Homo sapiens: one gene and its partners. The protein of the gene in region 1 interacts with the protein of each later gene in a pairwise test. Each region holds a gene or a part of one and is shown in the gene's direction. Other genes may lie near its edges. The genes, in order: SH3GL3, EGFL6 and GABBR2.

What was found.
Region 2: the proteins of SH3GL3 (region 1) and EGFL6 interact in a two-hybrid assay, tested with the Homo sapiens proteins (one large-scale study listed by BioGRID and IntAct).
Region 3: the proteins of SH3GL3 (region 1) and GABBR2 interact in a two-hybrid assay, tested with the Homo sapiens proteins (one large-scale study listed by BioGRID and IntAct).

Annotation. Positions count from the first base shown.
Region 1 is NC_000015.10:83,450,217-83,453,873, forward strand, and holds part of SH3GL3 (endophilin-A3), read left to right. Parts: intron 1-3,657. UniProt on the Homo sapiens protein: Implicated in endocytosis. May recruit other proteins to membranes with high curvature.
Region 2 is NC_000023.11:13,628,501-13,631,394, forward strand, and holds part of EGFL6 (epidermal growth factor-like protein 6 isoform 1 precursor), read left to right. Parts: intron 1-2,894.
Region 3 is NC_000009.12:98,299,779-98,303,435, reverse strand, and holds part of GABBR2 (gamma-aminobutyric acid type B receptor subunit 2 precursor), read left to right. Parts: intron 1-12; coding exon 13-195; intron 196-3,657. UniProt on the Homo sapiens protein: Component of a heterodimeric G-protein coupled receptor for GABA, formed by GABBR1 and GABBR2. Within the heterodimeric GABA receptor, only GABBR1 seems to bind agonists, while GABBR2 mediates coupling to G proteins.

The DNA of each region.
Region 1 (3,657 bases):
TATGCTGAAAACCACTGAATTGTACACTTTAAGAGAATTGTATGGTATGTGAAATATATCTCAATAAAGTGATACGAATATGTCTCTGTGTCTCTGGGTGTGTGTGTATGTATACATCTCAGTGCTGAAATTCTTAAGTAAGTTAAGCATTTCAGAGTAAGACAAAGATGATAAAGTGGACCTTTTACAGAGAAGGGATCCAGGACCATGGCAAACTGAGATAGTTTTCTGAAAGATAAGCGAGGTAAAATTAGCTATAACCCGGTTAACTGTTCCTTTTTTCCTGATACCTTCCCTATCTCTGGGAAAAAACCCCTACTTTACAGAGAATGAAGACTCGTAAACCCTGGGGATTATGCATCATTTTGGCAGCACATGGAGACCAACAGGAAAGAGGAAGAAATATGCTAAAATGAGAAGAATATAAGTTAACAAAAAAATTTAATTAATTCTAAGTTTCAGCGTTTGAGACTAGAACCCAAATTTTTCTTTTTTTTTTTTTTTCTAATATGCATTATCCTTTATTAAAATGGGATATTTTTCTTTTTTTTTTTTTTTAAGGTTATAGATTTTCTTTTTTTTTTTTAATTTTTTTTTTTCTATTATACTCTAAGTTTTAGGGTACATGTGCACATTGTGCAGGTTAGTTACATATGTATACATGTGCCATGCTGGTGCGCTGCACCCACTAAAGTGTCATCTAGCATTAGGTATATCTCCCAATGCTATCCCTCCCCCCTCCCCCGACCCCACCACAGTCTCCAGAGTGTGTTATTCCCCTTCCTGTGTCCATGTGATCTCATTGTTCAATTCCCACCTATGAGTGAGAATATGCGGTGTTTGGTTTTTTGTTCTTGCGATAGTTTACTGAGAATGATGATTTCCAATTTCATCCATGTCCCTACAAAGGACATGAACTCATCATTTTTTATGGCTGCATAGTATTCCATGGTGTATATGTGCCACATTTTCTTAATCCAGTCTATCATTGTTGGACATTTGGGTTGGTTCCAAGTCTTTGCTATTGTGAATAGTGCCGCAATAAACATACGTGTGCATGTGTCTTTATAGCAGCATGATTTATAGTCCTTTGGGTATATACCCAGTAATGGGATGGCTGGGTCAAATGGTATTTCTAGTTCTAGATCCCTGAGGAATCGCCACACTGACTTCCACAATGGTTGAACTAGTTTACAGTCCCACCAACAGTGTAAAAGTGTTCCTATTTCTCCACATCCTCTCCAGCACCTGTTGTTTCCTGACTTTTTAATGATTGCCATTCTAACTGGTGTGAGATGATATCTCATAGTGGTTTTGATTTGCATTTCTCTGATGGCCAGTGATGGTGAGCATTTCTTCATGTGTTTTTTGGCTGCATAAATGTCTTCTTTTGAGAAGTGTCTGTTCATGTCCTTCGCCCACTTTTTGATGGGGTTCTTTGTTTTTTTCTTGTAAATTTGTTTGAGTTCATTGTAGATTCTGGATATTAGCCCTTTGTCAGATGAGTAGGTTGCGAAAATTTTCTCCCATGTTGTAGGTTGCCTGTTCACTCTGATGGTAGTTTCTTTTGCTGTGCAGAAGCTCTTGAGTTTAATTAGATCCCATTTGTCAATTTTGGCTTTTGTTGCCATTGCTTTTGGTGTTTTGGACATGAAGTCCTTGCCCACGCCTATGTCCTGAATGGTAATGCCTAGATTTTCTTCTAGGGTTTTTATGGTTTTAGGTCTAACGTTTAAATCTTTAATCCATCTTGAATTGATTTTTGTATAAGGTGTAAGGAAGGGATCCAGTTTCAGCTTTCTACATATGGCTAGCCAGTTTTCCCAGCACCATTTATTAAATAGGGAATCCTTTCCCCATTGCTTGTTTTTCTCAGGTTTGTCAAAGATCAGATAGTTGTAGATATGCGGCATTATTTCTGAGGGCTCTGTTCTGTTCCATTGATCTATATCTCTGTTTTGGTACCAGTACCATGCTGTTTTGGTTACTGTAGCCTTGTAGTATAGTTTGAAGTCAGGTAGTGTGATGCCTCCAGCTTTGTTCTTTTGGCTTAGGATTGACTTGGCGATGCGGGCTCTTTTTTGGTTCCATATGAACTTTAAAGTAGTTTTTTCCAATTCTGTGAAGAAAGTCATTGGTAGCTTGATGGGGATGGCATTGAATCTGTAAATTACCTTGGGCAGTATGGCCATTTTCACGATATTGATTCTTGCTACCCATGAGCATGGAATGTTCTTCCATTTGTTTGTGTCCTCTTTTATTTCCTTGAGCAGTGGTTTGTAGTTCTCCTTGAAGAGGTCCTTCACATCCCTTGTAAGTTGGATTCCTAGGTATTTTATTCTCTTTGAAGCAATTGTGAATGGGAGTTCACTCATGATTTGGCTCTCTGTTTGTCTGTTGTTGGTGTATAAGAATGCTTGTGATTTTTGTACATTGATTTTGTATCCTGAGACTTTGCTGAAGTTGCTTATCAGCTTAAGGAGATTTTGGGCTGAGACGATGGGGTTTTCTAGATAAACAATCATGTCGTTTGCAAACAGGGACAATTTGACTTCCTCTTTTCCTAATTGAATACCCTTTATTTCCTTCTCCTGCCTGATTGCCCTGGCCAGAACTTCCAACACTATGTTGAATAGGAGCGGTGAGAGAGGGCATCCCTGTCTTTTGCCAGTTTTCAAAGGGAATGCTTCCAGTTTTTGCCCATTCAGTATGATATTGGCTGTGGGTTTGTCATAGATAGCTCTTATTATTTTGAAATACGTCCCATCAATACCTAATTTATTGAGAGTTTTTAGCATGAAGGTTGTTGAATTTTGTCAAAGGCTTTTTCTGCATCTATTGAGATAATCATGTGGTTTTTGTCTTTGGCTCTGTTTATATGCTGGATTACATTTATTGATTTGCGTATATTGAACCAGCCTTGCATCCCAGGGATGAAGCCCACTTGATCATGGTGGATAAGCTTTTTGATGTGCTGCTGGATTCGGTTTGCCAGTATTTTATTGAGGATTTTTGCATCAATGTTCATCAAGGATATTGGTCTAAAATTCTCTTTTTTGGTTGTGTCTCTGCCCGGCTTTGGTATCAGAATGATGCTGGCCTCATAAAATGAGTTAGGGAGGATTCCCTCTTTTTCTATTGATTGGAATAGTTTCAGAAGGAATGGTACCAGTTCCTCCTTGTACCTCTGGTAGAATTCGGCTGTGAATCCATCTGGTCCTGGACTCTTTTTGGTTGGTAAACTACTGATTATTGCCACAATTTCAGAGCCTGTTATTGGTCTATTCAGAGATTCAACTTCTTCCTGGTTTAGTCTTGGGAGAGTGTATGTGTCGAGGAATGTATCCATTTCTTCTAGATTTTCTGATTTATTTGCGTAGAGGTGTTTGTAGTATTCTCTGATGGTAGTTTGTATTTCTGTGGGATCGGTGGTGATATCCCCTTTATCATTTTTTATTGTGTCTATTTGATTCTTCTCTCTTTTTTTCTTTATTAGTCTTGCTAGCGGTCTATCAATTTTGTTGATCCTTTCAAAAAACCAGCTCCTGGATTCATTGATTTTTTGAAGGGTTTTTTGTGTCTCTATTTCCTTCAGTTCTGCTCTGATTTTAGTTATTTCTTGCCTTCTGCTAGCTTTTGAATGTGTTTGCTCTTGCT
Region 2 (2,894 bases), on another chromosome or scaffold:
TGTGGACGTTATAAAGAGTTTGGTCAAGGTAGGCCAGACGAGGTGACTCACGCCTGTAATCCCAACACTTTGGGAGGCCGAGACAGGCAGATCACCTGAGGTTGGGAGTTCAAGACCAGCCTGACCAACATGGAGAAACCCCATCTCTACTAAAAATACAAAATTAGCCAGGTGTGCAAGCCTGTAATCCCAGCTACTCAGAAGGCCGAGTCAGGAGAATTGCTTTAACCCGGGAGGCGGAGGTTGCAGTGAGCCGAGATCGTGCCATTGCACTCAAGCCTGGGCAACAAGAGTGAAACTCTATCTCAAAAAAAACCCCGAAAAAACAAACAAATGAAAAGTTTGGTCAAGGTGGGAAGGAAAAAGGGTGAAAGCTAGAAAAAGGTACATTAAGTGGTGATAATAGGAAGAGCAATTAGTAGATCCATGTATTGGGATTCCATTTATACTTTGCTTGTGAAAGATGACTAATGCAAATTTAACATCTTTTCATTTACATGTCATAGTTTAATTAAAGCAGAACATCTTGTTTAAAATATGTCATGAGACATGACTATAAATAAAAGTATATGTTGGGTACCAGTTAATGAATTTCCTAACCACTCTTCCCCTCTGAGGTAAAAGCAGCCAGTGCTTGTTTAGGAATGACACATGCATTAATTTGAGTTTATTCTTATAGCAGTACATTTAAATCAATACAAATCCAATCCACGTATTTTCTTGTTGTGTTTGCAGCATGGTTTGGGGACTGTGGCACTGAGCCATGCTATATATGGATGATATCCCCTGCTGGAGAATTGAAACATGCCTCTGCACAGCATTCATAATCACTTTCATGTTGACTGAATTCATGTGATGGAGAATATTTTTAATATAACATGGTAGCTTGCAGGGAGGGTATACTAGCAAAACAGTGATTTTTTTTTTAAATGCACATTTCTGTAGACATGCCCCCAAAGAGCCTGGCCAGCAATCACACTGGAACACAGCAGTGCTTTCATAAGAGGCATTCTCAGACCCAGGCATCTGTTCCTTGAATTCTTCAGTTCTAGGGGAAATCTTGATGGGGGGATATTGAAGGGTAAGGAAGCTGACTAATCCAGTCTAAAGAATATATTCCAGTTTAGCAATGTCATATTGGCTGTGGACATTTGTAACATATGTGACTCTTGCTGCATAAACTTGGGCATACAATGTAAGTCACATTGCTTTCTCGAAATCAAACTATTTCTGAATCCAAAGCCCCATCCCATTAGGCTGGGGGGGAAATTTAATCTTGGCTATTTCCTCATTCAGGGTTGGGATAGGGGCCCCCTCCCTAGGGTAGCCTGTGCTTTTGAAAGGCTAAAAATGGTCCAGACATTAAGAAGGGGGCAACACATCTTTACTTCATCATGGGGGCCATGGATACCCATATCTTCTGCACCTACGTGGCCCTTGAAGTCACTCATCTCTTCAACTTCCATGCCAGGCCCAGACACAGAAACCTTTACTGGGGTTGGAATCTTGTTGCTGAGAATCTAGCCTCAATAGGAACATCAGGCAACCATTTTCTGCCCAGGGCTCTGCCAGGGAGATGCAGTGGTACAGCATCCTAGTCCTGGAGAATCTCATGGCTCCCCTCACCACTTCTCCTTTTAACCTTCTACCTTCAGCCACAGTCTCAGAAAGTTAAGCTTGTGGGTAACAAACGTCAGGAAAGGGACCATCTTCCAGAAAAGTCTGCTTTTGATTGTTATATCCCAAATCTCCTTGATAAAAAAGAACATTAAAATCCTGCCTAATTTTGGGGGGGATAGAGGAGGTAAAAATATAGTGAAAAACACAAAATTAGTATGTCAATTAATTATCCGGACATTTATTTCTAGTTATCCAGTGGTTATCAGTCAGGGGTCTTAGTGTTGGAAAAGCCACCATATGCCAAGATGTAGACATAGCCACCCTCATTATCCCACCCATTGCAGCTGCTGTGAGGGGTCTGCTGTTTGGCTCACCCCTACTTTTTAAAAAAAGTTCCTTTGGGTGCAAAAGGAACATCTTTCTGAAAGCAGTTCCCTCCTGAGACTAGAGGAAAAAGAAACTTCTATACCCAGTTGTGCTATCACTGGCTGCTTAGTAATAACTTGTTTCCAATAGTTCTCAAGAAAATGCACTCAGATTGAGAGCAAAAGAGAGCAGCCCAGGTACTGAGCAGTCATAGACCCTTGTCATCTCCATTTGTTCCCTGAGGTTTCTCTTCTTTGGAGAGCCAGAGAAAACTGGATATGGTGATGACAGCAAGCCTAAAGTTGCTTCATTTCTGAAGACTATTCTGTGATTCTTTATTAAGCAAAAAAGAGATGGTGCTGGGGATAGTGAATAATTGCATGATGGCATTGTTGTGAGCATGATTCTTAAAGGGTCTTTCTTTAAAATGCCAATTTATACAAGTTTGAATTTATATAAGTTTGAGCTTAAAAAGTTTAGAAATGACAAAAGGAAATTACTTTTTTGAAAATAAGAAAAGATTCATAATCATACTACAGTAACATGAGTGCTTTTATATTTCACATTTTACTTTGCACATGAATGTATATTTTTATTTATCTGTAACTGCAGTATGCGTAGGCTATTGTTGAATTTCATTTTGATAGGCTATATGTGCATGTTATTTTAAAGAATACCATGTTCCAAATGAAATATTCTTTTCCCTCTATGTTTGTTCCAGGGTAACTTTTGTCATCTTTGAATCAGGATCATTTTGTTGTCCTCTAAATCTGCTTATTTCGGATATTGAAGATTGTAGAAACCCTCTAGGCCTAGTCTGCTCTTTATGGGAGGCATGGGAGACATACTTCTCTTTAGAGTGAATGTTACTGGATAGGTGCTCCATAAATTGTAGCTATTATTATTTT
Region 3 (3,657 bases), on another chromosome or scaffold:
TTGTCCTTTCAGCTCATCACCCTGAGAACAAACCCAGATGCAGCAACGCAGAACAGGCGATTCCAGTTCACTCAGAATCAGAAGAAAGAAGATTCTAAAACGTCCACCTCGGTCACCAGTGTGAACCAAGCCAGCACATCCCGCCTGGAGGGCCTACAGTCAGAAAACCATCGCCTGCGAATGAAGATCACAGAGGTACCTCCCTCTGCATCTGGTAGCTGGGCCCTGTCTGCCACTGAAGCCCCTCTAACCCTGTGCGGGGACTCTCAGGCTCCTCTAGACCATCCCTGCAGCATGACCGTGCAGTCTCATCAGCTGCAGTTGCAGCTGCGAGAGCCAGGGGTGACATAAACCACACAGAGGCATTTGTCAGAATCCAACATGAGCTTATTGCCCACCTCACCCAGGCTCTTGGAGGCCAGCAACACCTGATTCAAGCCATCCCCAGACAGAAAGGAACTCAGGGAGATTTGTGAGCTTCTGGATTATCATAGCTTCCTACGTCAGTGTCTCTTTATCTGTGTCTCTCTCCCTCTCAGTTTTTCACTCTCCCAGCACAACCCAGCAACCACCACATCTATGTGATGTACAAGAGAAGAGAAAGTGAAAAGAAACTTTTCAAGAGAGAGTGCTGCAGCAGACCTCGCCTTTGTCCTGAGGGTTCTCAACTGGTTCTTGAATATTCCAGAGAGACCATAGCCAGATTGCCTTGTGCCCAAGCCAGGCTTGGCTTGTAGACCAGGGAAGGGAAAACAAATTACCTCCCCTCCTCTACCCCTCCCTTTGGGTTGGAGGTATGCCTGAACCCGTGCTCTGCAGGCTGTGTGTTGCTTTAATAGAGGAATTCTGATTAGGGAGGGGGACAGGAAAGGGACCAAGGAAAGTACATTGGTTACAATGCTGGCTAAACAAGGCCCCAAAATAAAGTGGCCCAGAGAAAATATGTTTATTTCCCTTTTACCTAATGGCCGTGAAAAGAGAGGGCCCGGTTGGGGCAGCTCTGCTCCCCAAGGTCATTGCTGGGCTTGGTTCCTGCCCTCTGGTTTTCCCCACTCTCCAGGGTGTTCTCTTCATTCATAGCGGGAGAGCTGGGTGGACAGCATGTCCTGTTCACAGTGTCAGGAGGGGAAGAGATAGAAAGTCCACATGAGGGATTGCCTTTTAAGCAGTAACACCAAAAATTGTGCATATTTTGGTTCTGCCCTAGTCACATCAACAAAAACTGACATGAGCACACCTAGTGAGAGGAGAGGCTGGGAAACGTCGTCTCTAGCTGGACAGCTGCAAGGAAGAAGTGAGACATAGGGTTGCCAGATTAGATATGGGATGCCCAGTTAAATTCAGACTTCAGATCAACAACCAATCATATTTTCAGTAAAAGTTTAGCCCAAGTAATACTTGAATATACTTATACTAAAAAAGAACCCATTATCTGAAACTCAAATTTGACTGGACATTCTGGATTTTTATTTGCTAGATCTGGCCGCCCTTTGGGGGGCTCACAGAATTCTGCCACAGAGAGCCACCATACAGTTGTCTGTGCACCTAAAGATGACTGCTTTAGGATGAGGTAACCCACCATCAGCTGCCAGAGCAAACTAAGAAGGGTTTCTGTCCCCCAAAGCCCATTACAGGCTCTGTTTCAATATCAGACCTCTCCTGATGAGTACGACCATGTCACTGCATTTCACTTCTACTTGCACACTTCAGCAATGAAGAGTTCAGTCACATTAGGAAACCCAGGCCACTATTTAAAACTCTTAAATGTTGTGTTATTTTTCCCGGAAATGAATCACAATCTGGCCTCCTGTTGTCCCCACCCTTTGATCCTACTCCTGCCATTTAAGTCACATAGAAAAGAGTATCTCTTTCCCTCCTCCTCCACATGAAAACGTGTTAAACAATTTCATGGCTGTGTTCCTGACATCAGAACAGCCTCTGATAGTTTATCAGGTCTCCTCCCTTATACTACAGCAGGATGCTGTTTGGAAAAATCCTCTAACCATGTTTTTCCTGTGCTCTTGCACCAACACAACAGTCAACGCAGAAGACTTCTGTGACCAAATGTGTGTGGGGTTTTCCCCACCAACGAGCAGCAGGCACCCGCTGGGTGCCTCCAGTTCAAATCCAATGCTACATATCTAGAGATAGCTTCAGATCCCACAGGTTGAGGGCTCAGTCCCCAAGGCTCCCCCTGACCCCCACCCTACCCTCAGATACCAGTCATAAGTCAGGCCTCTGGAACTTCTGACCAGCCAGCTTCAAGTTGGGACTCCCAGGATCCTGCTTTGGGTTGAATTAATTTGCTAGAGGGGCTCACGGAACCCAGGGAAACACATTTACCAGCTTATTACCAAGGACATGAATGAAGAGATGCACAGAGCGAGGACGGGTGAAGGGGTGTGGAGCTTCCCTGCCTCCCTGGGCCCCATGCTCCAGGAACCTTCACGTGTTCAGCTACCCAGAAGATCTTCATACCCTGTTCTTTTGAGTTTTTATGGAGGCTTCATTACACGAGGCATGACTGACAACTGTGTAGAAATGTGATTGGACAAAAATGCATGATCTAAACCCAGCAAGGCCTTTCTGCTCAGAATTTTCTTGGCCTCTCTGTAGCATTCCTTCCTCCAGGGTATGGGGCAAGACTTTCTCTCTGTGATAAAGGTCTTTTGACCTACATCAGATTACAGTCCTGCCTTGAGCAGGTGAGAAAGGACAGGAGAAGGTCAGAGAGAGTGATTCTGTTTCATGAGGCCCGCTCCTGAGGCCTAAAATGCCCCAACATTATAACAAAAGACTCTTACAAGAGATATAGCAGCCAGGAATCATGGATGAAAGCCATTCTATTATACAGATATGGTAATATCACAGATGTTCAACACCCATCCCGACTACCACCCCCAACAACTACCAACACTCATATTGCCCAGGCTTCTCTGGGGCTGAATTGCCCCCAGGACTTGCACCTGATTTTTGTATAACCTGGGAATGGGCCAGGTGCTGTGGCTCACACCTGTAATCCCAACGCTTTGGGAGGACAAAGTGGGAGGATCGCTCGAGCCCAGGAGTTCAAGACCGGCCTGGGCAACATAGAGAAGACTTGTCTCTAAAAATAAAAACGTGGGGATGACTGGGACCCATCCTGATTAACTCCTCTGAGTGAGACCCTGCAGGTCAGAGTCTCCATGATAGTGTGAGGCTCAGAGCTCGCGAGCCCTGCATGTCTGTCCTCCACTGTGGGTCCTATTAAGTATCAGTAATAGTAATTATAAGGCCAGGCACAGTAGTTCATGCCTGTAAACCCAGCACTTTGGGAGGCCAAAGTGGGAGGATTGCTTGAGCTCAGGAGTTCAAGACCAGCCTGAGGAACATAGAGAGACCCCATCTCTACCAAAAAAAAAAAAAATTAGCCAGACATGGTAGCATGCACGTGTAGTCCCAGCTACTCAGGAGGGTGAGACAGGAGGATTGCTTGAGCCTAGGAGATCAAGGTTGCAGTAAGCTATAATTGCACCACTGCACTCTAATCTGGGTGACAGAGTGAGACCCTGTAATAATAGTAATATTATTATAGTAGCAAGTTGCCCTTATTATGTTTCAGACACTGGGCTAAACTTTCCATGTATTATCTTGTTTGATCTGCACAACCTCCCCCTG